Linked DNA regions of Homo sapiens. The protein of the gene in region 4 purifies or fractionates together with the protein of the main gene of each other region. This does not show direct contact. Each region holds a gene or a part of one and is shown on either strand. Other genes may lie near its edges. The genes, in order: PPM1A, NPLOC4, REEP5, DHCR24, RTN4, FUNDC2 and ATP12A.

Region 1 (3,500 bases), on a different chromosome or scaffold from region 4:
GAACATGGTCACACTTGCAAAACACAGTAGAGAATCGAGAAAATTAGTCAATAATATATCTTCACTGTAAGTACAAGAAGTCTTCACTTGTAGTTTTAGCACATTTACTCTATATCCAAATTCAAGCTAAAGGTATTTGCAAGTTTTATGTTTGTAAGTCAATTATATGGATATTTGAGGTAAAAATGTTTTAACCCTTGGAATTGCTTGAATTTTCCACTTTATTATGTAAAGGTGTAAGCTTAATATTTAACACAAAGTAGTCCAATTCTATGAACTAAAGTGGAAAGGGAAAAGACAAGAAATATATTCTATCTTCTTCCCTGACACCTAAAACCAACTAACCAGCAATCAACAACCAAAAATACTGGGAAAATCAGGCATAGAAACATGGTCCATATGAGGAAGGGGAATTTTCAGGGTGTTAAGTTACTCAGGGATTGACCAAATCAAATTATACTACTACTAACAACGACACTTAGAATTTTGTAAATTTTTATGTAGTGCTATGTAATTTAGTTTAAAAAGTTCTTTCAGTATATTATCTCGTTTATGCTCTATGAGGAAATCAATGCCAACCAAGCTTCCAATAAAGACAACCCTCACTGCAATTAGTTACAATGATACTGATACCTATGTCTAAACAAACTCTAGATATTCTAATACTAAAAAAAAATTGAAATCACAGGTTAAAACACAGATAACTGCATCAGTTCAGAAATTAGGCAAACAAACATTTTATCAATGAATACCTAACATTTTCATACACTGACATAAAGCATAAGAGTGTACAGAATGTAACTTACTTGCTTGCCAATTCACCCCCTGGTGGGAGGCTGGGGATGTTCTCACTCGCTAATGTGCGCATCACATGGACTAAGTCGGGGACGCCTTCCCCCTGCTTCTTTATGATTTCTGGGAATCAGAAGTACTTTTTTTGTAAGTGTTATCCAAATTTAATTGAAAAGAAAACCGAAACAAAGATAACCTAGCTTTTTAAAGATGGCATTTACCACATCTGAGATTTTTCTAATCTGGTATCATTTAAAAAAAAAAAAAATCAGGTTGACCTTTGAAGATTTATGACAAAAAATGCACAAAATGACATATAAGATTAACTTCAAATCAAAATTAAAATGTGAAAAAATATTTCATGTTAAATCAGCATATTATATAATCAAGGATATGTGTGCACAAGTGAGAATACCCTTTCTTAAGATGTCAACTAGTTTCTTCTTACATCACTCCTCTCTTTAGACTGGAAACATGTTTCCTGAACTTTGCCCTATATAATACACTGCGTGGAATTTTAAAAAATAAACAATTTCAAGATTTGAAAATAACAACCCTTAATTATAGGGGAATTTATAGATTATATACTAACTCAATTATTTTTATGTATATATTTATATTTGCAAAATGATACTTAAATAGCATGCACAGATTATGTACTTGAACATCACTGTCTCAGTTTAATTCTTCTCTAAAGTACCTTTAAACAATATACTGTATAGATATATAATACCATTTCCTTCACTGATTACTTCAACAAAGCCTTGAATAGAAAAGGTCTAAATTTCCTTATAAAATGTTTAAAAAGAGAACCATTTGATAAACCATACAACTGCATTTAAAATAATTTTAAAATATCCAGTTATTAAAAGGGCACAGCAATATGATCTGCAGTGTTGTCATGCAGATGCATACTATTATTCACATCACAAAATATAAAAAATTATGAACAAAGAACCTTACAAAGAACTCTACAACTATTCCTCTAAGTATAAAAAGTCTTCACTTGCAGTTTTAGCACACATACTCCACATGCAAATTCAAGTCAAAAGTATTTGTAAGTTATATGGTCAAGTTTTGTTCAGTTTGTTTTTCAATGTTTATGGTAAGAAATGGTATTTTATTTGTCATTAGTGGGGCAAGAAATCATCATTCTGCTTCTCAATTTGTAAATACCTTTGAAAATAACAATGTGTATAAAGATTCGTCCTTTGATCAGGCCTCAAAATTTTTAAAGACATGGCTACCCATAATATTTCTTTAAATGGTTCAAACTGTCCTTTTAGAATAAAGGCCAAATTTTTACCATCTATTATTTTTTGCCTTAAAAAAAAAAACAGTCTTAAATCTGAACAAAAAGCAAGGATCTCAGATTTGGTTTGCCAAGTTCCTTTATTGTGTAATCTTTAACATCTAGTATATTTGTTCTACATGGTTCTAATGCTGGAAATCTGCTGTACAAAAATAAAGGGATTTGATGTTTACCTAAACTGCACAATTTCACAATCTAAAACTAATACACTTAACATACAGTCTCCGCTAAGCCAATACAATTATTTGGATAGATAACTAGATACAATAGAAATAAACACTGATGATAAATTGAATCAATAGTTTCAGGTCTAAAAAACATTACCTTGAATCATCTATATTTGATGTATCTTACATCTCTTTTGTTAAAATATAAATTAGGATATTTTAACTGTGAAGAAAATTACAGGAAAACAAATTCTTGTAAAAAAATAATGTAAAGCTTTAAAAACAGTTAATATCTCCTGTTCCACGTGGGACAACGCATTTAAACTACCTGACCATTCATACTATACTAGCCTTGCTTCTGTCTGCTTTCAAAAAAGAAAAATAAATGAATTTTAAGAAATATTCCTTTAATTTCTGTTGACCTATACGTTTTACTTAGAATTGTAAAAAGACTGAACGCTTTTTCTAAAGAATATTTATATATAGAAGATCCATGTTTCACATACATATACACAAACACATTCTGCTCCTTTCCACTCCCCTCCACCAAGTTTCAGGGATTCTATCAGTCATCTCCAAATTAGCAACTTTAAAGCTAAGGTAGTCAGTAGCAAAGATTTTGAAAATATATACACAAAAGTATAATTTTAAATTGGCTTAGAAGGACCACAAAATTAATAGTAGTATAAATTATGAGCTGAATCTTTTCACACCCCCAGAGAGTCAAGTATTTAGAAGGGAACAAATAAGAGAAAAGGAGAGCTGGAAGGCCTTTGTCCTTTTCTATGGTGTGGACAGAGAAGCCAAAAATGTTCCAAGCAAATAAAATGAGGTTTAGTAGGTCACAGCAATCTAGTGAAGGCATGTATTTAAAGAAAGAAGAGAGAGAGAAAAGAAAAAGGCATTCAGGTGCCTGCTTTGGAAGCTGAAGGCAGTATTTTTCACTGAGGACACACAACTTTTACAATACAAACAGTTACATTCTATGTTTTAAAATAGCAGCAATTTTAATGTAATATTTATTCTCTAGTTGCAGTCTCATCAAATCTGAGTAAAAAATACCATATTTAATTTATGACAATCTCCAATTGAATGGTACAAGTATAATAACACTTTAACATATCAAAAATATTGAGTATCAATGTAAACTCTGTCCAGGTGGCAACTCTTGCTTGATAATAAGAAATATAAAACTTATTATTGTAACAAAATAACGTAAAGTGAATATT
Region 2 (3,500 bases), on a different chromosome or scaffold from region 4:
TCCACCTCAAAATATGTTCCCATAAAAAATTTTGAAGCATTTGGGTACAAAGAGACTGGAAAGGTATTGGGGGAGTTGGGGGCCTCACACCAAGTCTTTACTGTGATGTCCCCTGGAGATGCTGATTCCCGTGCAGAGTGGGGTGTTAATCAGCAGCTGCAGGGGAGGGAGGAGGGAAGGGGCAGGTGGTTGTGTGTGCGCATCCATGTGAGGTGAGTGCTGTGTCTCTCATTTCATAGCGGTTGGATGATTTTGACCTGCCACACTAGTGTGCGCTCTCCATCCCTGCAGCAAGCATTTCACTTGCAGAAGATGCTGTGCCTTGGAATATTCCCTCCTCACCTGGGGCTATATGAAGTGCTTATGCATATGTACATTGTTTATTTTAGATTTTTTGCAATTCCTTTTAAATAAACCAGTGAGAAGGATCTGAGTTTATACTTGGCCATGTGAAATTGTCTGAGCGAAGGTTGTCTCTGCAGTGGGGTCTTTTTTAAAATGCATCACTCTGTAGATGTGACGGGGTGCTGACTTTGCGGTATTGGGATTCCAAATGCTGCATTAGCAACTTTTATGTCTTAGATCAGAGAGCCATAAATGGTGCTCTCCTGCCATTGGCATGGAGCCACTTTGTAGCCATAGCCATTAGCCGGCATGCCTCTTCCATTTGTGTCTCCTCCCAGGGGCCTGGCACTGGCTTGCTTGCATGATCTGTGTCTTCATGGCTTCATTAGCAGCTTTTGAGAGCGTGTGTGTGTGAGAGAATTCTGAGCCATCATCACTTAGATCCTGCCTATTAGGAAGCACAGAGGCCACCTCTGTTCCGCAGCACAGGGCTCATACGCATGTAAGAATTCTGACCCCACTTAGAAAGGGGTCTGACTGAGCCCCGGAGGGACGGCCGCCGGCGCCCTCGTAAACCAGCATACCTCTCCTTCAGATTGTGCGTGTTGTGCTCCCAAGGCTTCTGTGACTGAAAATGTTAGAAAGCCGTGGGACAAGGTTTTTTCATTGTTGTTATTTCCCAAAATGCATATGAAGTAGGTATTTTCCAAACTTGGATTATTTATGCACCGCTCTCAGGCCCTTTGCCATGTTCACGTACCAGCTTTGTTATTATTTATTTAACACTTTTCTTTTTTTTTTTTTTTTTGAGATGGACTCTCGCTCTGTCACCCAGGCTGGAGTGCAGTGGCGCGACGTCCGCTCACTGCCAGCTGCGTCCCCCCGGTTCACGCCATTCTCCTGCCTCAGCCTCCCAAGTAGCTGGGACTACAGGCGCCCGCCACCACGCCTGGCTAATTTTTTTGTATTTTTAGTAAAGACGGGGTTTCACCGTGTTTGCCAGGATGGTCTCTATCTCCTGACTTGTGATCCACCCGCCTCGGCCTCCCAAAGTGCTGGGATTACAGGGCGCAAGCCACCACACCTGGCCTATTTAACACTTTTCTTTAAATGGACTTGGCCAGGCGCAGTTGCTCACACCTGTAATCCCAGCACTTTGGGAGGCTGAGGCAGGTGGATCACCTGAGGTCAGGAGTTTGAGACCAGCCTGACCAATATGGTGAAATCCCGTCTCTACTAAAAATACAAAAATTAGCCAGGCATGGTGGTGTGCACCTGTAGTCCCAGCTACTTGGGAGGCTGAGACAGGAGAATCGCTTGAAACGAGGAGGCGGAGGTTGCATGGAGCCGAGATCATACCTCTGCACTCCAGCCTGGGTGACAGAGTGAAACTCCGTCTCAGAAAAAAAGAAAACAAAAAAAAAACTATTTTATTTATTTATTTATTTGAGTGGAATTTCACTCTCGTCTCCCAGGCTGGAGTGCAGTGGCACAATCTCAGCTCATCGCAACCTTTGCCTCCCAGGTTCAAGCAATTCTCCTGCCTCAGCCTCCCTGGTTCCTGGCATTACAGGTGCTTGCCACCACGTCCGGCTAATTTTTGTATTTTTAGTAGAGATGGGGTTTCACCATGTTGGCCAGGCTTGTCTTTAACTCCTGACCTCAGGTGATCCACCCATCTCAGCCTCCCAAAGTGTTGGGATTAGAGGTGTGAGCCACTGCCTTTGGCCAATAAACTACTTACATTGACTTTGAGTTCATTCACTTTTATCTTTGGTTTGTGTCATTTTTTTTTTTTTTTTTTTTTTTGAGACGGAGTCTCGCTCTGTCGCCCAGGCCGGACTGCGGACTGCAGTGGCGCAATCTCGGCTCACTGCAAGCTCCGCTTCCCGGGTTCACGCCATTCTCCTGCCTCAGCCTCCCGAGTAGCTGGGACTACAGGCGCCCGCCACCGCGCCCGGCTAATTTTTTGTATTTTTAGTAGAGACGGGGTTTCACCTTGTTAGCCAGGATGGTCTCGATCTCCTGACCTCATGATCCACCCGCCTCGGCCTCCCAAAGTGCTGGGATTACAGGCGTGAGCCACCGCGCCCGGCCTGGTTTGTGTCATTTTAAGCAGTGGATACCCATGAAGTCACAGGTTTGATGTGCGGGTCAGTTTTTTCTAATTCATATCAACATAAGTAGTAAACTTCTGGGTGTGGTGGTGTACACCTGGAGTCCCAGATACTCGGGGAGGCTGAGGTGGGAGTGCTTGAGCCCAGGAGGTGAAGGCTGCAGGGAGCCACGATCACCACTGCACTCCAGCCTGGGCGATAGAGTGAGAGCCTGTCTTTAAACAAAACAAAACAACAATTAAAATATAAATGTTTATCCATGTGCCATCTGGAATATAACTCCACGTGGGCAGGGAAACACTCTGTTAAAGTAGGACGTGCATGTGAGACAGCAGCAGCGGAACACAGACATCCTCACTGCTCTGCCTTTTTCTGCCTTGTACTCTCCTCAGATGCCGCCACGGCCCTTTGGGGAAATGCGTGCACTGCGTCCCTCTAGAGGTGAGAGTCTCTGCGGAGTAAGTTCTGGGCCAGTGTGGGGGGCTGCGGGTAGACAGCTGTCTTAAGTGCTTGCCCTGAGTCCACGCACTTGGCTGTAGTGAGTGGTTCAAAGAACTTACCTATTTATTGCCCTGGGCCTCATATTCCCCTAGTGCAAGCTGCACACAGGACGAGCCTTTATTTATGGGAGTGACCTTCTCGCTGGATTATGAATGGCTGAAGCATTTGTGTGGCTGTGATAAAGGGGCAGCATTTACAGCGGGCTCCCTGGACAATCCTTTTCCGATCTGACACAAAGCTGAGCCTGTCGGCCTCCGTGCTTATCATTGTTGATTTACTTTGCCTTGAATCTCACATCTCTTCTACTGGTTTGTCCTGGTGAGACTGAGAGTTACCGTAATAATGCCGACTGGAACTGTTAATGCTGGGTTTACAGCAGGAAGGCCAGCCCGATTTTCTTCATGAGGCATCTCTTGCCTCATCTTGTGGCATTTCTTTTTGCACAATTTTCCTGAAACTCATTTGACTTAGAGCGTTTTGTGTTTAATAGAGATTCATTTTAATCTTGAAAAGATAACTGGCACACAAAGAAAAACT
Region 3 (3,500 bases), on a different chromosome or scaffold from region 4:
AGGCATGCATTGCTCTGCTCTTCAACACTTTAACAAAGCACATATAGATCCAGAGAGAAAAGCTAGTGTAATGGGAACATAGGCAGCTCAGTAGAAAATACATCTGCTCTGAAGTTCTCATGAGTAAAAAAGAACAAAACATAATTACAATTTAAAAAAAAAAAAAAAAACCCACAAGAAAACAAATACACCCCCTACTAATGAGTCCAAGAAGAGAACTACAAATACACATCCTCCAGTACTGTTAAGGAAACAGCTCTGCTTCCAGTGACTAGCTGCAAAACAGAAAGTGTCTGTTCACAACTGTCATTCACACCACGGTGACTTTCTCAAAGTCTCCTCTGGGTAATAAACCTCTTTAGGAGTCTGTCAATGCACACCTTAAGCAAGTAGACTGCAACTCTTTTTAACTTGTGTTCCCCAGAATGTGTCCTCCCTTTGTGTGCTGAGCATCATTTAGCTAAGAGGATGCTGTTGCTTTTACTTGTGGTTAACTGTGTTACAACTCTTGTAGATATTTTCATTGTTTTTTTTCTTCAAATTAACCTTCTTGCCATCCCTTTCTGATCTGACCTCGATAGGGGTCATCCCCAAACATCTTCCCTTGAGATACTTGTCTCTTGAAACAGAACTAAAGGCAACGCTGCATCCCCTTAGGAAATCCAGTTCAGTGTGCCATTTTCAGGTGGCCTTGTGCTAGTAAAACAGAGCAAGCCTCTGCTGTCATAAGTCAAAGCTACATAACAGATAAGAAAAGTTGTTAGTAACATATTCTAACTAATGTCTACAAAACACAGTCAATGCCTATGTGTGCAGATATATGATTTGGGATGACAGTACCTTATTTGAGAGGAAAAATACACTGCACAAAGGTAATGTATTGACAGGGTCAACTGTTTTTTTGAAAGGCCTACATTTTTTAATTTTCATCTCTACATAAGGTGATGTTGTGTTTGTGGGACATTCAAAGAGCCACAAGGGAGGTAGCATAACGTAATCATTAAAAGCATGAAATTTGGAGCCAGATTCTTTGGATTTAAATACCAGTTTCATCATCTGCTAGTTGTGAGACCTTGATCAAGTTATTCAAATTCTCTTTCTGTGTTTCCTCATCTGTAAAAATGGGAATAATCATAGCACTTACATAATAGGGTTGTTCTGAGGATTAAATGAGCTATATTTGCAAAGCACTTAGACAGAGATATGTACATATCTGTTAAATAAAATGCTACACAGATTTCAGGAGTCATACAAAGAGCTAAATGCAATATAACTCTTTACACCAGCAGCAAAAGTTTAAAATGGGCTTGTGAGGACACACAGAAACTAAAATGACACATTACTGAACTGGGTATGAGATTTCAAAAGTGTTGTTAAAGATTAAATATATAGTGCTGGACTCTCGTCTTGAACTCCTGGCCTCAAGCAATCCCTCTGCCTCAGCACCCCAAAGTGCTGAGATTACAGATGTGGGCCATCATGCCCCGCCCCCTAAACATATTTAATCTTTCTAACATTGGCACTAAAATATGCCTAAATGTGCTTTACATTCCTGTGTAGTTCCAGACCAAGCCTGGCCTCTGTGTGACCTTGGGAAACACACTCCACCTTTCTCTGTCCCTGAATTGTCATTTTAAAACTAAAGGAACTGGACTACCTGTTTGATCTTTAAGGCCCAACTCTGATAGTCCCAGGAAGGTGGCAGCCCAAGTCTTAAGGAAAATATGAAATAAAAAGAGGAAAAGTAATAGACATTTTTATAGAATTTTAAGCAAAAAAGTTACTGGGTAGGACAGAAAGCAAACCTTCCCCTTTCCTTAAATAGAAGATAAAGTCTGAGTTTGCCTCACAATTCCATTTGTACAAAGGAGCAAGTACAGGACTAGGGCCCTGGCTCACTAGCGCCCACCCTGGAGGGACTGCACCAGGAGGACTTACTCACATATGAGGGTGCAGCACAGCATACACCCTCCAGAGGACTCTTATTTGTGCAATCCCATTAGAAGCAGGGCTGCACCAGACATTAAAGGCCATATATTGTATGATTCCGTCTACATGAAATGCTCAGAATAGGCAAACTCATAGAAACAGAATGCAGATTAGTGGTTTCCAGGGGCTGGGTAGGAGGAATAGGGAGTGATTGGTGATGGTTTCCCTTTGGGGTGATAAAAATGTTTTGGAATTAGACAGTGGTGATGGTTACACAACTCTGAACATACTAGCCACTGAACTGCATACTTTAAAAGTGTACAATTTATAAGTATCTAAATTATATCTTAGCAATGGGGGGAGGTCTATCTTTATAATAAACATTTCCAGTAGTCTGCCTCCTGTTATCAGTAAAAGAGGGAAGTAAGGAGATTAAGGTAATTATGTCAACAGTTCTTGATGAAAGGAAGGCTGGAATTAGATTCCGAATTGCCTATATAAGATGGCCAAAAATTCTAGAAACTAGAAGTCAGAGATGAAAGACCCTGTTCTCAAAGAGCTCAAAGGGAAATTATGCACACGGAAAGAACAACCAGTAGGAAGAGGGGTATACAATAAGGTACTGGTTGCTCCCCAGTGAGCACTGGGCAAGTCTTCAACCATCTACATGCTCCAACGTGCAGCAGACCCTGACCAGGAGCCAGGTGCACCTGAGCTTCACTCACAGACTTCCAAAGGGAGTCCAAAGGGAGAAAAGCTAGGAAGCCAAGTGAGCTTTTCCCAATTTCATCTTTGCATCCTGCAGTCTCTTGACCCAATACTGACACTACTCCCCTTCTTGTGATGGCCCAAGGAGAGGAAACAGCAAGAGAAAGGCTGAAAGGTGAGAAAGGAAGGAAGTAAATTACTGGCAATAGTTTGGCAAGATCGCGAACTCCTTACAGAGGTCACAGCAGCCAAAGTGACCTTAAAATATAAATCGTATCATGTCACCCCCTATTTAAAACCCATCCAAGGCAATCAGAAAATGCAAACTCCCTACCACCATCTGGAATGAAATGCACACTTCTACCACTGACCCTACCTGCTGGCACCTGCACCTCTCTGGTGCCTCCCCCACCACTCTTTGCTCACACAGAGCTAAGCTGTGTGCTGCCTCAGGGCCTGACACACTCTTCTCCCTCTCCCTGGCTCTGCTCTTGGCTGGCCCCTTCTCATTCCTCAGGTCTTCTCTACCAGAACTGTTTATTTACTTTAGAGGGCTTACCACACGGTCACTACTTTGCCTATTTCTTGCCTGGGTAGACTGCTCATTCAACAAGGACAGAGAGTATGACTACCTTATTTCTTGCCATATCTAAAGTGCTACCACAGTGCCACACATGTGACTGGCATTTGATTTTTGCTAAATAGATGAACCTGTATTTTAAAAAATAACTCTGGCTAGGGAGCATAAGAGTTACAAGAGGTATGGAGAATAGTTAAAATGAAGGTGACTGCTATGGTCTGAATGTTGTGTTCCCCCAACATCCATATGTTGGGACCTAATACCCAATGTATTAGTATTAAAT
Region 4 (3,500 bases):
AAAAAAGGGTGTCATCGTAACTTCCTGGGACTGTTGTAGGAATTACACAAGACAGTGTGCAGTAGATGCCTAGTGTGTTGGGAATACCCAGTAAATGGTCCTCATTTTTATACTTGCTATTATCACCATTACAAAACCTTTTCTGAACTTCCCAGCTAGAGTTAATGTTTTCAGAACACTTCGATCCTCTCTTCTAGCTCTTTCATCATTCTGCCTTGTGGTGTAGCAATATGTTGGCTTTTCTGTCAGCCTTGCTGGCCAGGGAGGTGCCAGAGGGTAGGGCCAGCAGGCCTTTTCATTGTTCTGTTTCTCCAGTGCCTGATGGAGGCATCATTCCCAGCTCGCCCTTGAAGAAAGCAGGGCTGCAGGCTGCTCTGGGGATTCCCAGTGGGGCCAGCTCACCCTCTGTCCTGTGGTTGCAGGTGCGGGAATGGAAGGAGCAGGGTAGCAAGACCTTCATGTGCACGGGGCGCCCTGGCTGGCTCACTGTCTCACTACGTGTCGGGAAGTACAAGAAGACACACAAAAACATCATGATCAACCTGATGGACATTCTGGAAGTGGACACCAAGAAACAGGTGAGAGTAGCACTTTTCCGGGCTCTGGGAGCAGGTGGGGCACTGCCCCTGGTGCAAGTGACTCATAGGGAGATGATTTTAGCCAAGGGCATTGCAGAGTGGACAGGACCAATGCCCACAGTCATAGAAGATACTCCCTGCCATTGCTGTCCTCAAGCCTCACAGCCACCAGGGGAGAGATGGGTCATAATAGGTCAGGGGAACCCTTTGCGTTTCCACAGGAAGTCAGGAATGGGGAATTCGTGAGCAAAAATGAGAGGCAAAAAGGAATCTACTTACCCCTTCCTGATAAGGAAGTGTGCTGGTAAAAAATGGGCTACAGAAGTGACTGAGAGACATGGGTCTTGTTACAAGCTTCCTGGAAACCCTCTTGTTTAATAGCCTTCGAAATGTACATACTTTTTGGCCCATCTAGTAATTTTACTTCTCGAAACCTGGCTTAAGGAAAAAGGAAATAGGCTTCAGTATAAAGATACCCAACACAGAGTGATTATATCACAGCTTTATTTCTAATTGACAACAACACAATATCCAATAATAGGGTAGTCATTAAATATGGTATGTCTACTTGATGGCATTTTGTTATTATTGTGAGACCTTGGCCAAGTTACTTAATCTCTCTGTGCCATTTTTTTTAATAGCTTTATTGACGTATTTAAAGTGTGGTAAAACTCTTACCACAATCAAGACAACAAACATACCCATCACACCCCAAAATCTCCTCATGCTCCTTGGTAATCCCTTCCTCTAGCCCCTAGCCCTGCCTCTTCCCCTACCCGCCCCCCACAGCCTTAGGCAAACAATGACCTTTCTGCCACTATAAATTAGTTTGATTCTAGAGTTTATATAAATGGAATCATACAGTACTTTTTGTTTGTCTAGCCTCTTTCACTCAACATCTTTATTTGGAGATTCATCCATGTTGAAAGGTGTGTCAATAGTTCATTCTCTTTCACTGCTGAGTCATATTCCCACACATATTGTGTGGATGTATCACAGCTGGTTTATCCATTCACCTACTGATGGACATTTTGGCTGGCTCCAGTTTGGGGCAATTACAAATAAAATGGAACATTTGTGAACAGTCTTTGTATGGGCACATGCCTTCCTTTCTCTTGGGCAAATATCTAGGAATGGAATGGCTAGATCATAAGGTGGGTGTACATTTAACTTTTTAAGGAAGTGCCAAATTTTTTTTCCAAGTGATTGTAGCATTTTACATTTCCACCAGCAGCGTGAGTGTTGTTCTTGTTCCACATTGTAATAGACTTGATATGGTTAGTCTTAATTTTAGCCATTCTAATAGATGTGTAGTAGTTTTTCATTGTAATTTTAATTCACATTTCCCTAGTGACTAATGATCTTTCCATGTGCATGTTTGCTATTTGTATATCTTCTTTGGTGAGGCCTGATCAAATCTTTTGCCAATTTAAAAAAATTCAGGTGGTTTTCTTATATATTCTGGAAACATCTTTTTTTTTTTTCTTTTAAACTTTTAAATTAAGTGGTACCTGTACAGGTTTGTTATATAGGTAAACGTGTGTCATGGGGTTTGTTGTACATATTATTTCATCACCCAGGTATTAAGCCTAGTACCTATTAGTTATTTTTCCTGATCCTCTCCCTTCTCCCTCCCTCCACCCTCTGATAGGACCCAGTGTCTGTTGTTCCCCTGTATGTGTCCATGTGTTCTCATCATTTAGCTCCCACTTATAAGTGAGAACATGCGGTATTTGGTTTCCTGTTCCTGCATTAGTTTGCTAAGGATAATGGCTTCCAGCTGCATCCATGTTCTTGCAAAGGAACATGGCTGCATAGTATTCCATGGTGTATACGTACCACATTTTCTTTATCCAGTCTACCACTGATGGGCATTTAAGTTGATTCCATGTCTTTGCTATTGTGAGTTGTGCTGCAGTAAACATACACATGCATGTGTCTTTATGATACAATGGTTTATATTCCTTTGGGTATATATACCCAGTAATGAGATTGCTGGGTCAAATGCTGCTTCTGTTTTTTGGTCTTTAAGGAATCACCACACTGTCTCCCACATGGTTGAACTAATTTACACTCCCACCAACAGTGTATAAATGTTCCTTTTTCTCTGCAACTTCACCAGCATCTGTTATTTTTTGACTTTTTAATAATAGCCATTCTGACTGTGTCAGATGGTATTTCATTGTGGTTTTGATTTGCATTTCTTTAATTATCAGTAATGTTGAGCTTTTTTTCATATGCTTCTTGGCCACATGCTTGTCTTTTGAAAAGTGTCTGTTCATGTCCTTTTTATATTCACTTTTTAATGGGGGTTGTTTTGTTCTTGTAAGTTTGTTTAAGTTCCTTATTGATGCTGGATATTAGACCCTGAAACAACATCCTTTATTAGATTCATGATTTGCAAATATTTTCTCACAGTCTGTGGCTTCTCTTTTGAAAACCAGAAGCTTTATTTAGTTTTTCTTTTTGAGACAGAGTTTCACTCTGTCGCCCTGGCTAGAGTGCAGTGGCACGATCTTGGTTCACTGCAGCCTCCGCCTCCCAGGTTCCGGTGATTCTCCTGCCTCAGCCTCCTGGGTAGCTGGGAGTACAGGCATGTGCCACCACACCCAGCTAATTTTTTGTATTTTTAGTAGAGACGGGGTTTCACCATGTTGGCCAGGCTGGTCTCAAACTCTTGACCTCAGGTGATCTGCCTGCCTTGGCCTCCCAAAGTGCTAGAATTACAGGCGTGAGCCACCACGCCTGGCCAAATCAGAAGTTTTAATTTTTCCCAATTTGTTAATTTCTTCTTTTATGCATTGTGGGGGTTTTGTTTGTTTGTTTGTTTGTTTGTTTATATTTTTGTTTTTTGAGACAGAGTCTAGCTCTGTGGCCCCGGCTGGAGTGCAGTGGTGCTATCTCAGTTCTCGGCAACCTCCA
Region 5 (3,500 bases), on a different chromosome or scaffold from region 4:
TCTTTCTCTCCCCTACTTTGACCACAATCTCCTATCATTCTGGCATGTATTTATTCCTACTACTATTGGTTCTTAAACCTAATCTGGGCCTTGAGTTCACTGACCATCTACTCTCCTCCTACCTCTCCTACCTTTTTCTATTCACATCCTTCAACTTAGATGCCACAGTCCATCACTTCAAATTACTCTCCTGCTATCACCCTCAACTTTCTTGACTTACTGTCCTTCCACAGGGCCCACCTGCCAAAACACATCCTTGAATCAATACAATCATTTGCCTTCCCTGAACCCATACCTAGGTTGTTTGGCACAATCAAAGAAAAGTCACCCTACCATTTAGACCACCTTTCAACCTTGATTAGGCTCCTAATACAATGCCTTTGGTTTCCCTAGTCAGAGGTATTGCAGATCTCTTCCACCCAAGCATGATCTACTTCATTCCCAGCAAATGAACTAACATACTGCTTTAAAGAACAAACATAAACCATCAAATAATTCCCTCAACTTTCAGTCACAAAACCCTAACAGTATCAATACCCCATACTTTCCTTTCCACTCACTACAATCAAAGCTCTATCGTTCCTTCTCTCTAACACTAATTCTTCCACCTGAACTAGGCAGCACATCCCCATCCCCTTCTGACTTTCTGCCAGCACCTGTAATCAGATTTTCCCCTTCCCACCTTAAAAAAAAAGTCCTACCTCCACTGCATACTCTCCTTCCTGCTTGCTAATATTTTAATTTTTCTCCAATAAAAATCTCAAACTTCTTAAGAGTAATCAACATTTAATAACCACTTACTCAAGTCTCATTCACTTCTCAATCCTAGCCATGCCCATGCACACCACACCATTTGCCGCTGTCATGACAATATCTTCCCTCCTTTTTGACCAACTTGCAATCCTTAACTGACCTCTCCAGTATTTGATAATTTTGACCATTTCTTCCACCTTCAAGTAGTCCTCTTCTCTTGATTCTTCCTAATTGGTATCTGGGGCTTTAATTTCTATCTCTAAGCCCATGACAGACACATACAGCCAAGATCTCTCTCAAGAGCTTCATGTGTATAATATCCATAACTTACTGGATATCTTAGAGGTATGTACATCAATACCAACATATCCAAAACCAAATTTGTATCTTCCCTCTTAAACCTACTTTAATCTCTCATGTTCCCTATCTCAGTTTCTCATACTGCCACCCATACAAGTGCACATGCCAGAAATGAAATCCAGGGTTCCTGGGGTCATCTTTACCTCTTCCCCTCATCCTTTATGTCCCTATCCGTCAAACACCAAGTCCTATGTCTCTGTGCTCATCCCACTGCCTGAATGTTCATAATCTCCTCTTTCTTAGATTACAGCAACTGGTCTACCACTGTTCCAATGGTGATGAGCTGGACTGTACTGCTGAAGCACCAGCACTTAAATACATAAGTATATTCAGTAAATTTATCATAATCACTATTTTAGAGAAAACGCAGCTAAATCAGAATGCTAATAAAGAGCACATGTGCAAATCACCTTGTGCAAATCACCTTATGCAAATCAGGTATGTGGAAAATGGATAGTCAAAAGAAAAAAAGGAGAATCGGTACTTTTCAAAAGAATTCATAATAGCATAACTCATTTTATACTTTTCAACAAAATGTCTACACTCAATATGCCTAACTTTATACCTACCACTGGAAAAGTACTATATTATATAGAAATATTTAAAACATACTATAGAAATTTTCTTTAAAAATTAAATATGGTAATTTCTGGGATAACAAAAACACATCTGAAAATATTTTAATATCTCTTGCTCTTCATGTTATCAAGAAACACAAGTGAAAAAAGAAAGAAAGAAAGAAATAGGTACTAAAGCCAATTCTTATAAACAAAAATATTTTCTATTAATAGTTCCATAGTGCAATATAAAAGTGTAACTGTGTGGAAAAGTTAAGGGTGAATGCTGAGTGCAAGAGAGTTAGAAAAAGCACTAAAACCTTTAACTGAAAAAGTGGAGAAGACTTCTTACCAATGTGACATATGAGACACTATAAACATAATATAAAACACAAAATGTAGTGGAATGTTCCCTAAATCCAAAAGTGGCATGAAAGCACAAAACTGCATATAGATTGGATTACCTGAAGTTTTACTCAGCTCTGCTGAAAATATAGCAGATGGTGATCTGTCCTCTTTTTCTGTATCGGAAGGAAGTTTTTTCTCAGCTTCTTTCACAAGAACTTTGGGTTTAACTATGCTCTCTATCTCTGCTTGAGTGGCCAAAGCAGAAACATCTGGAGGCAATAAGAGCACCTTTGATGTAGCAGACCCATTTTTAGAAAAGTCATCTGAGAAACTGATTTTCTCTTCAACTTTGGGTTGTATGTTCTTCAAAGAAAGGTCATGGGGCAATTCTGTGCAAGGCAATGACCCAGCTCCATCCGGGGCATTAGCAATTTCACTTTTGTGGGATACTTCTAGGTCAGTATATTCCCTGGCTAATTTAGAAAATGAATCAGTTTTAGAACTGATCAATGTAGGGAACTCATCTATAATTTCAATTGGAGATGAATCTGAAAACGTTTCAGTTTCTCTTATCTGTGCTTCCTTAGAAATAAATAAGTCATCATTTGAATAAACTGCAGTACTGAGCTCCTCCATCTGCAAAGGAATTTTCTCCTTTTTGCTCAATGTTGAAACTTCATCAGGTAACAGGGTATCTTTTGTGTTATCTAAACTGAGCTTAAAAGATTCCAAATATGGCTTTCCTCCCTCAGGTGGCAAAGCACTGAGTTTTTCCTTATTTTCATATTCTATCATTGACTCAAATGAAGTCTCAGTGAGACTTTCTTTCACAAGCATCACAGTTTCATCTTGTTTTTGTGGAACGTCAGGTATTGAATCATCACTAAATAAGTCAACTGGTTCAGAATCAGGTGAGGAATCTTCAACTAGCTCAGAATGATCAGGCACTGGCTGTTCAACTTTTGCCATTTCTGAATAATCAGAGAAATCCGGAGCTGGTTCAGCAGAAAGCTTTGTTTCTTTAATTAAATCACATGCAATAGATATATAAGGAGCTTCTGTTTCTTGAAGAGCTGCATTAATATTTTCAGGCTCTTTAATTTCTTCCTTTATTCCTGATACTTTTTTTAGTGATACACTCATGGCCTCTTCATATGGTGGGGGGTTTTCAGGCTCATGTTTTATGCTTTCATAATTAACTGAAGAAGCTTCTAATGGTGATGAGCTGGGCTGTATCACGGAAGCACCAGCACTAGGAACTGCAGAATTCAATGGTGCTTCCATAACAATGTCAGGCAAAACTGGTGAAGGAGTAGCTTCTGACTCTTCAAATGATGGGCAAAGCTGTGCTGCAGGATAGAGTGACTCTTGCATAACTTCTGATGTTTGAACCAAGTCCATTTTTGTTTCATAAGCAATCTTTGTACCAGTAACTTCATTCAATTCACTTTCACATGCTTCCTGTACTAAATCTGGAGTCAG
Region 6 (3,500 bases), on a different chromosome or scaffold from region 4:
GTGATGTGTATCATAAACAAAACATTGATACTCAAAAAAGTGAACTTCTTATAGAGATCAGTAAGAAAGTTCACTTTAAAAATGGGTAAGGGCAATTCAGAGGAAAGTGTCCACAAAAAGGAAAAAGTTCAACTTCACAAGTAATCAAGCCATAGTACCTTTATTTATGAGTCTATAACTGGAAATACACAAAAGTCTATCAACACATGAATGGATAAACAAATTGTATCATATTTACACAATAGAATATTACTTAGTACTAAAAAGAACAAATTACTTACAGCAACCACATAGTTGAGTATCAACATTTGTATCTAAAAGAAGGCTCTGGTTCATTTACTCCACCCTGTTTATCCCACAAAATCCTGCTATTAAACTGAGAGAATACATGGACTAGCTATTTGAAGGCTCTTACATAAAAACAGCGACGTGCAGATTGGAGAAGACCAGAATTCAAAGCACCACCAAACTGGTGGCGTGTTTCCTGCTTTTCCTGCAGTATCGCCTGGCCTAACCTCAAGGCAGGACTCAAGAAACATCTGACAAAATTCAACGCAAATTCATGATAAAACTCTCAGAGAAAGAGCAATAGAGGGGAACTTCCTCAACTTGATAAAGAACATCTACATAAAAAACCCTGCAGCTAACACTGTACAGAATGGTGAAAGAACGAATGCAGGGAACAAGGCAAAGCTGTCCGCCGTCTCCACTCCTATTAAATATCGTACCAGAAGTGAATTCAGAGTCAGCACAACAAGGCAAGAAAAAGAATTAGGAGGCATCCTGATTCACAAGGAAGAGGTCAAACTGTCTCCAATCATAGACATCTTTGTCTACATAGAAAATTTCATAGACTTCAACAAAAAACAAAAACTCCTAGACTAAAAAAGTGAGTTTAGCAGGGTCACAGGACACAAATTCACACAAAACCAACTGAATTTCTATATGCTAGCAATTTGAACTGGAAATGAAAAATGTTTAAATGATTTACAACAATGGGTGCAAAAAATAATTAAATATTAGGTACAAATCAAATAAAACATACAGGATCTGTATACTGAGAACTACAAAATGCTGAAGAAAGAACTCAAAGACAACCTAAATAAATGGAGAGACACATCATGTACATGGAATGGAATACTCAACACAGAAATGATGCCCAGTTCTCTCCAAATTATCCATAGATTTACTGCAATCCCAAATCACAAATCCCAGTAGGATTTCTTATAGATACATAAATAAGCCGGTTCTAAGATTTATATGGAAAGGCAAAGGAACTGGAATCACCAAAATGAATCTGAAAAAGAACAGAGTTGGGGAAATCACACTACCTGATTTAAGATTTACTATAATGCTACAGTAGTCAAGACAGTGTGTCATACTGAAGAAGAGATAGACACACAGACCAACAGAACAGAATAAAAAGTACAGAAACGGACGTGGACAACTACAACAAACTGATTTTTCACAAGGGGGCAAAAGTAGTAATGGTGGTGGTGAAGTCCCCTGGGTGGCCCAGGCCAGGATTGCGAGGTGACTTCCTGCTCTCCTTGGCATTACTGGGGGACTGCACTGCAGGGGCAAAGCAACACCAGAACTGGGAAAAGCAGCCTCTCCCGCTGCAAGGTCCCTCCAGCGCCCTCTACTGACAAAGCTCAACATCCTACTTCCATTGCAGCACAACAAGTAGAGGGAGCCGAATAAACTGAAAACTGGCAAGCGTTGCTGCTGGGCTCTGAAAGCTGCAAAAAGTGCTGGAAATGATCTACAGCTTGGTAAGAAAAAGCAACTACATTCATAAAGACGTGAAGGAAAAATTTCACTGTTCACAGATGGCATAAAAAGATTTTATAGACAAAACCCAAAAGAATCCCAGACAAGACTTTTTTAACAAGGTGGCTGGCTGAAAGAGCAACATAAAATATCAACTGTATTTCAACACACTAGCATGAATCAGAATGTGTAGTTTTAAAAATCGTATCATCCACAAGAGCAACTAAAGTTATAAGGTATCCAGGAATAAAACTGAATCACAGATGTACAAGATCTATACGGAAAAATAATAAAAAGTCTATTCAAAGGCATTAAAGAAGACCTAAATAATTGGAGAGAAAGCCCGTGTTCACAGATAGAATACTCAATATCATAAGAGATATCTACATGGTTCCAATGCAATTCCGATAAAAATTTCAACAGGATTTTTGAAAATAACTGACAAGTCTGATCTAAAATTTAGATGAATGAGCAGAAACACAAAAGTAGCTGCAACACTCCTGAAGAATAAGGTGGAGGAATTTGCATTACCAAATATTAAGCTTTAGTACTGTCATAAAGATCGAAAGTTGACCAGTGGAACAGAACACAGAAACCAGAGTCACAGCCACACATACATGGGTTCTGATATATGAAAGAGACAATGCTGCAAATGTTGGGAAAGGGAAGAATTATTCACTAAATTCTGCTCAATTATCAGTATGGAAAAAAGGAAACTGGATCCCTATGTCAAACTATAACTTGTGATATAACTGATCTCCCAACATTATGCTTGCCTCCTGCTCTCACTCCCCTGGTGACAGATAACATGAGTGCCTGCCACAGATTCTCCATGTCTCACCTCTGCAGCAAAGCAGTGTCCCTGTACCCCTTGAATATTGGAATTATCCAACCCCAAAATCTCATTTTGAGGTGCCTTTCTGGAGACATTTTCAATACCAATTATTTCTGTCAGGGCCCCAAAACGAAACAGAGGACACACTCAAATTAAGACATTTCAAAGCAATATTAAAATGTTTATGAAGTTTGGGGCAGCATATAAGGGAAACCACAGGGATAGAGATGTTACTGCACTTCCACCTGAAGGGTCAAGGGGAAGGAGAGAGAGGTGTGAGGAGGGGCCCCACCTTGCAGGGAGTCTGACCTGTCTAGCAACAGAGCCAGCACGTAACAAGCCCACAGGGAAGCAGCCAACAAAAGTGAGGCTTGGGCAACAAAGGAGATGCAACTTGCACCATGTTTCTGCAGAACTGTGCTTGGGAGTCCTGAGGTCATGGTAGTGTGAGGAAGCCTATACTGGCACAGGGACCACATGGAAGAGCACTGAGACTATGGACAGGGGGGAAATAAGGAGAGGAGGAGGGAAGACAAACAGAGACAGAGACACAAAGAGGCCCCACAAGTCCAGACCTACCCTAACCCTCTGATCATCTGGCCTGTAACCACATGAGACTCTGATCCACAAGCACCTACCTTAACCCTCCCCAAACTCCTGTAACCATGAGAGAGAATAAAGTGATCATTATTTGAAGCCATTAGGTTTGGGGGAATTTGTCATGCAGCAATACCACACTCAACCCAGCTACAGCCAGTTACCAGCTTCCCTCTTCGATACATTTGATTTTCACCTGACCTATCTGCAAAACTCACTCCAATCATGGTGCTAATGCAGAACTTACCTTGCAAAAGTGAGGGTTGCCAACTGTGGGAAGAGACAAACGGCTGTG
Region 7 (3,500 bases), on a different chromosome or scaffold from region 4:
GAGGCCGAGGCAGGTGGATCACTTGAGGCCAGGAAACCCCATCTCTACTAAAAATACAAAAATTAGCCAGGTGTGGTGGCACAAGCCTGTAGTCCCAACTACTTGGGAGGCTGAGGTGGAAGAATCACTTGAGCCTGGGAGGCGGAGGTTGCAGTGAGGCAAGATAGCACCACTGCACTCTAGCCTAGGTGATGGGAGTGAAACTCTGTCTCAAGAAAAAAAAGCTCACTATAGAGTGTTTTTAATTTCCAAACATTTGGCAGATGCCTCTGGTCCCTTGCTTTGAGGTGTGGCATGTGGACTGGTAGAATGGGCACCACCTGAGAACCTGTGAGAAATGCAGAGCTACAGGCCCCATCACATGGAAGCTGAGAAGCCTTGAGTTAGTCCATCCCCGGCCCTTGAAGGTAGCGACCCTGAACTTGACCTCCCCTGGGGCAGGCATCACAGCCTGTTCCCTTCAGTGTCACTTACAATGTCTGTCCCCAAGTCAATGAACAGAATGGTGATGGTGCCAATGGGCAGGGGGAGCCCGACAATGATGTAGATCAGAAAGGGGCACAGCTCGGCAATGTTCTTGGTCAGGGAATAAGCAATAGTCTTCTTGAGGTTGTCAAAGATCAGGCGACCTAGGCAGAGAGGTTTCTCCTTCAGAACTTACTTCTAGTCCCCCAGACCACCCTGGCCCTTGGGAAGACCCCCTGAGACTCACTCACCTTCCTCCACCCCTGTGACGATGGATGCGAAGTTGTCGTCCAGCAAGACCATGTCGGCTGCATTTTTGGCTGCATCAGAACCTGCTATCCCCATGGCAATCCCAATGTCTGCCTTCTTTAGAGCCGGAGAGTCATTAACTCCATCCCCGGTCACAGCAACAACAGCATCCTATGGCGGGGGACCCAGGGAGAAAGTGGGAGTGAGCAGGCCCAGTGGGTTGCAGGCCTGGCAAGAGCAACAAGACTTCCCTTTCTCTTGAGGTTGCGAGGATGATTATAGCTGAACGGAAAGGCCCATTTAGGGGAAAAGATAAAGATGAGAAATCTTAGAAGCAGGAACAAGGGTCTCCAAACAAGATACGTGCAAATGAGGAAAACCTAATGCGCAGGTGTCTTGTATCTTATGTCTTCACATTTTTTGTTTTAAATCTTTGCATTTTAAATCTCTCTTTACTCACAACTACCACAGTGGCAAATGCTTCACCGGGCTCTCATGACAAAATGCAGAGAGCTGGGGTGAGCCTTTCGGGGAACATGTGGTGGGGGTCTCAAAGGAGGACAGGGGCCAGCCCACCTGAGAGGTTGGAGAGGTCAGGTGATGGGGATGAGCCAAGAACTCTCTCTTGAAGTTTCAAAGGCACCACAGCCTGATGTGAGATCCAGACCTCTGCACTTGCCCATGGACAGTGATGGGCCTGTCAGTCCTCTGGACACTGCTGTCCACCCACCTGCCTCTGACAGCCCTCCACAATGATCAGCTTCTGCTGGGGGGATGTCCGGGCAAAGACAATCTCCTGGTAGTTGGCTAAGATCTCATCCAGCTGTTCTGAGCTCATGTCCTTCAGCTCCATGCCAGTCACCACAGCGGCCTTGGCATCCCTAGAAGGGCCAGAAGAAACTGGGTGAGGCCCAAGGGCAGATCTTAGGTTGAAACACTGTTCCAGGCAGGATGCTGGCTGAAGCCTCTCTGACTTGACCTGGAACCCAGTGTCCTTGATACCTAATGCTCTAGTGAGGTAACAGGAGTCCTGGGAACACTTTAGTCTCCATTTCAAGAGGGCAAACTGAGGCTAAAATATAACACCATTTCTTGGTACCATATAACAATAGGAATAAAAAACCAGGTAGCCTTATCCCTACTAGAACAGGTGAGAGTGGTACTTCCTAGAGCAACGCTTTACTTCAGAAGTAAAAGGAAGTTAAAAAACTGCCCATTCATGGCCAAACGCAGTGGCTCATGCCTGTAATCCCAGCACTGTGGGAGGCTGAGTAGGAGGATCACTTGAGGCCAAGAGTTCAAGACCAGCCTGGGCAACATAGTGAGAGCCCCTGTCTCTACAAAAAATTTTAAAAAATTAGCCAGGTATGGTGGCATGTGCCTGTGGTCCCAGCTACTCAGCAGGCTGAGGCAGGAGGATTGCTTGAGCCTGGGGGGTTGAGGCTGCAGTGAGCCATGATCATGCCACTACACTCAAGCCTGGGTGACAAAGTGAGACCCTGTCTCAAAAACAAAAATAAAAATAAAACCCCCAAACTGCCTGTTCATATGTTTTGGGTCCTAGAATTCTTTTATGGCCAAACAAGGGGTAATAATTACTTGCCGTTGGGTATTTCAGATTTACAGAGTGTCATCTTTGTGCAATGTGCTACGTAGGCAGAAGTTTACTGAAGTCTTTGAGCAGCGCTATTGCCTGCTGACTATAAAAGTAAGGTTCTAGGGCCTATTGATTATGCAGAGCTGCCTGAGCCAGTCCCCTGCTAAAACTCTTCAGGGGCTTTCCACCGTGCTTGGAGCAGACCCCGGAATCCCTAACTTTAGCCAGCGAGCCCAGGTGGGGCCTGCGTTGTCAAGCTTCGCCTCACCTTGGGCTCTCCCTCCTGCCCGCTGGATGCTCTCAGTTCTGACATCCTCCATCCCCTGTACCCTAAGGCCTTCACGGGTCTCGCTCCCTGACCAGGAATGGGCATCTCTCACCTCAGCTTCTCGTGGCTAACACTACATTTCAGCCTTCAAATCTCAGCTTAAACAATGTAGGTACAAACTGCTGCAGGTCTTTTTCTTTACAATTTGCAAGTTTTGAGCTTTCTAGGTCTGTTTTACCTCTTGGTGCTAAATACTGGAATTCTAGCACTTGACTCAAACTACAGGTCTCCTTAACCGCTGGCAAAAAAACAAAACAAAACAAAACAAAAGAAAGTAAGAGAAGAAAGAAGGGGTGTTTCCTTTCCCCTTACACCTGCTAAGATGCAATTTTTATATGGTCATGAAACTAGAGCTGATGAAGTGAATAACTGAAAACATTCACAAAAGCATCCACTTCACTCAGTGTGGTGATTTGTATACAAATGTGTAATCCACTCTTCCCTTTTGTGGCCATGAGCAGAGTGGCAGTGACCAAGAGGAAGTGCAGTCCCTTTGTGACTTTTGACTGAGGCAAGAATCATAAAAGTCATTTCAATGCACCTTCCCACATTCGTAGGAAGATTATGTCTTTCTCTCGTTCCAAAGAGCTGAGACAGAAGCACATTCTGGAGTCTGCTACAAGCACAGTTCCATCCATGCCCATCTGAAAGGATGAGGAAGTTGAGGTTGCACAAAGACACTATACGGGCCAGCAAATTGGCAAAGCAGTCCAGGTTTATAGGAAGAAATGTGCCACCTATACTGAACAGGAGCACAGGAGGAGGCTAAGGGCAGGACCGTCGTGTGCACGTCACCAGCACATGGCCATCACCAGGCTAAAACTAGACAAAGACCACAAAAGATCCTTGAATGGAAGGCCA

Evidence for each region.
Region 1: the proteins of DHCR24 (region 4) and PPM1A purify together in Homo sapiens (co-immunoprecipitation; one large-scale study listed by IntAct). This does not show direct contact.
Region 2: the proteins of DHCR24 (region 4) and NPLOC4 purify together in Homo sapiens (co-immunoprecipitation; one large-scale study listed by IntAct). This does not show direct contact.
Region 3: the proteins of DHCR24 (region 4) and REEP5 purify together in Homo sapiens (affinity purification with mass spectrometry; 2 studies listed by BioGRID and IntAct, with this or other methods). This does not show direct contact.
Region 5: the proteins of DHCR24 (region 4) and RTN4 purify together in Homo sapiens (affinity purification with mass spectrometry; one large-scale study listed by BioGRID and IntAct). This does not show direct contact.
Region 6: the proteins of DHCR24 (region 4) and FUNDC2 purify together in Homo sapiens (affinity purification with mass spectrometry; 2 studies listed by BioGRID and IntAct, with this or other methods). This does not show direct contact.
Region 7: the proteins of DHCR24 (region 4) and ATP12A purify together in Homo sapiens (affinity purification with mass spectrometry; 3 studies listed by BioGRID and IntAct, with this or other methods). This does not show direct contact.

Annotation. Positions count from the first base shown.
Region 1 is NC_000014.9:60,287,221-60,290,720, reverse strand, and holds part of PPM1A (protein phosphatase 1A), read right to left. Parts: exon of another isoform or gene 2,166-3,500; intron 916-2,165; coding exon 807-915; intron 1-806. UniProt on the Homo sapiens protein: Enzyme with a broad specificity. Negatively regulates TGF-beta signaling through dephosphorylating SMAD2 and SMAD3, resulting in their dissociation from SMAD4, nuclear export of the SMADs and termination of the TGF-beta-mediated signaling.
Region 2 is NC_000017.11:81,609,613-81,613,112, reverse strand, and holds part of NPLOC4 (nuclear protein localization protein 4 homolog), read left to right. Parts: intron 1-2,854; coding exon 2,855-2,903; intron 2,904-3,500. UniProt on the Homo sapiens protein: The ternary complex containing UFD1, VCP and NPLOC4 binds ubiquitinated proteins and is necessary for the export of misfolded proteins from the ER to the cytoplasm, where they are degraded by the proteasome.
Region 3 is NC_000005.10:112,915,728-112,919,227, forward strand, and holds part of REEP5 (receptor expression-enhancing protein 5), read right to left. Parts: intron 1-3,500. UniProt on the Homo sapiens protein: Plays an essential role in heart function and development by regulating the organization and function of the sarcoplasmic reticulum in cardiomyocytes.
Region 4 is NC_000001.11:54,880,696-54,884,195, reverse strand, and holds part of DHCR24 (delta(24)-sterol reductase precursor), read left to right. Parts: intron 1-422; coding exon 423-578; intron 579-3,500. UniProt on the Homo sapiens protein: Catalyzes the reduction of the delta-24 double bond of sterol intermediates during cholesterol biosynthesis.
Region 5 is NC_000002.12:55,022,952-55,026,451, forward strand, and holds part of RTN4 (reticulon-4), read right to left. Parts: coding exon 2,135-3,500; intron 1-2,134. UniProt on the Homo sapiens protein: Required to induce the formation and stabilization of endoplasmic reticulum (ER) tubules. They regulate membrane morphogenesis in the ER by promoting tubular ER production.
Region 6 is NC_000023.11:155,047,344-155,050,843, reverse strand, and holds part of FUNDC2 (FUN14 domain-containing protein 2), read right to left. Parts: intron 1-3,500. UniProt on the Homo sapiens protein: Binds directly and specifically 1,2-Diacyl-sn-glycero-3-phospho-(1'-myo-inositol-3',4',5'-bisphosphate) (PIP3) leading to the recruitment of PIP3 to mitochondria and may play a role in the regulation of the platelet activation via AKT/GSK3B/cGMP signaling pathways.
Region 7 is NC_000013.11:24,704,408-24,707,907, reverse strand, and holds part of ATP12A (potassium-transporting ATPase alpha chain 2), read right to left. Parts: intron 1,596-3,500; coding exon 1,445-1,595; intron 886-1,444; coding exon 717-885; intron 630-716; coding exon 475-629; intron 1-474. UniProt on the Homo sapiens protein: The catalytic subunit of a H(+)/K(+) ATPase and/or Na(+)/K(+) ATPase pump which transports K(+) ions in exchange for Na(+) and/or H(+) ions across the apical membrane of epithelial cells.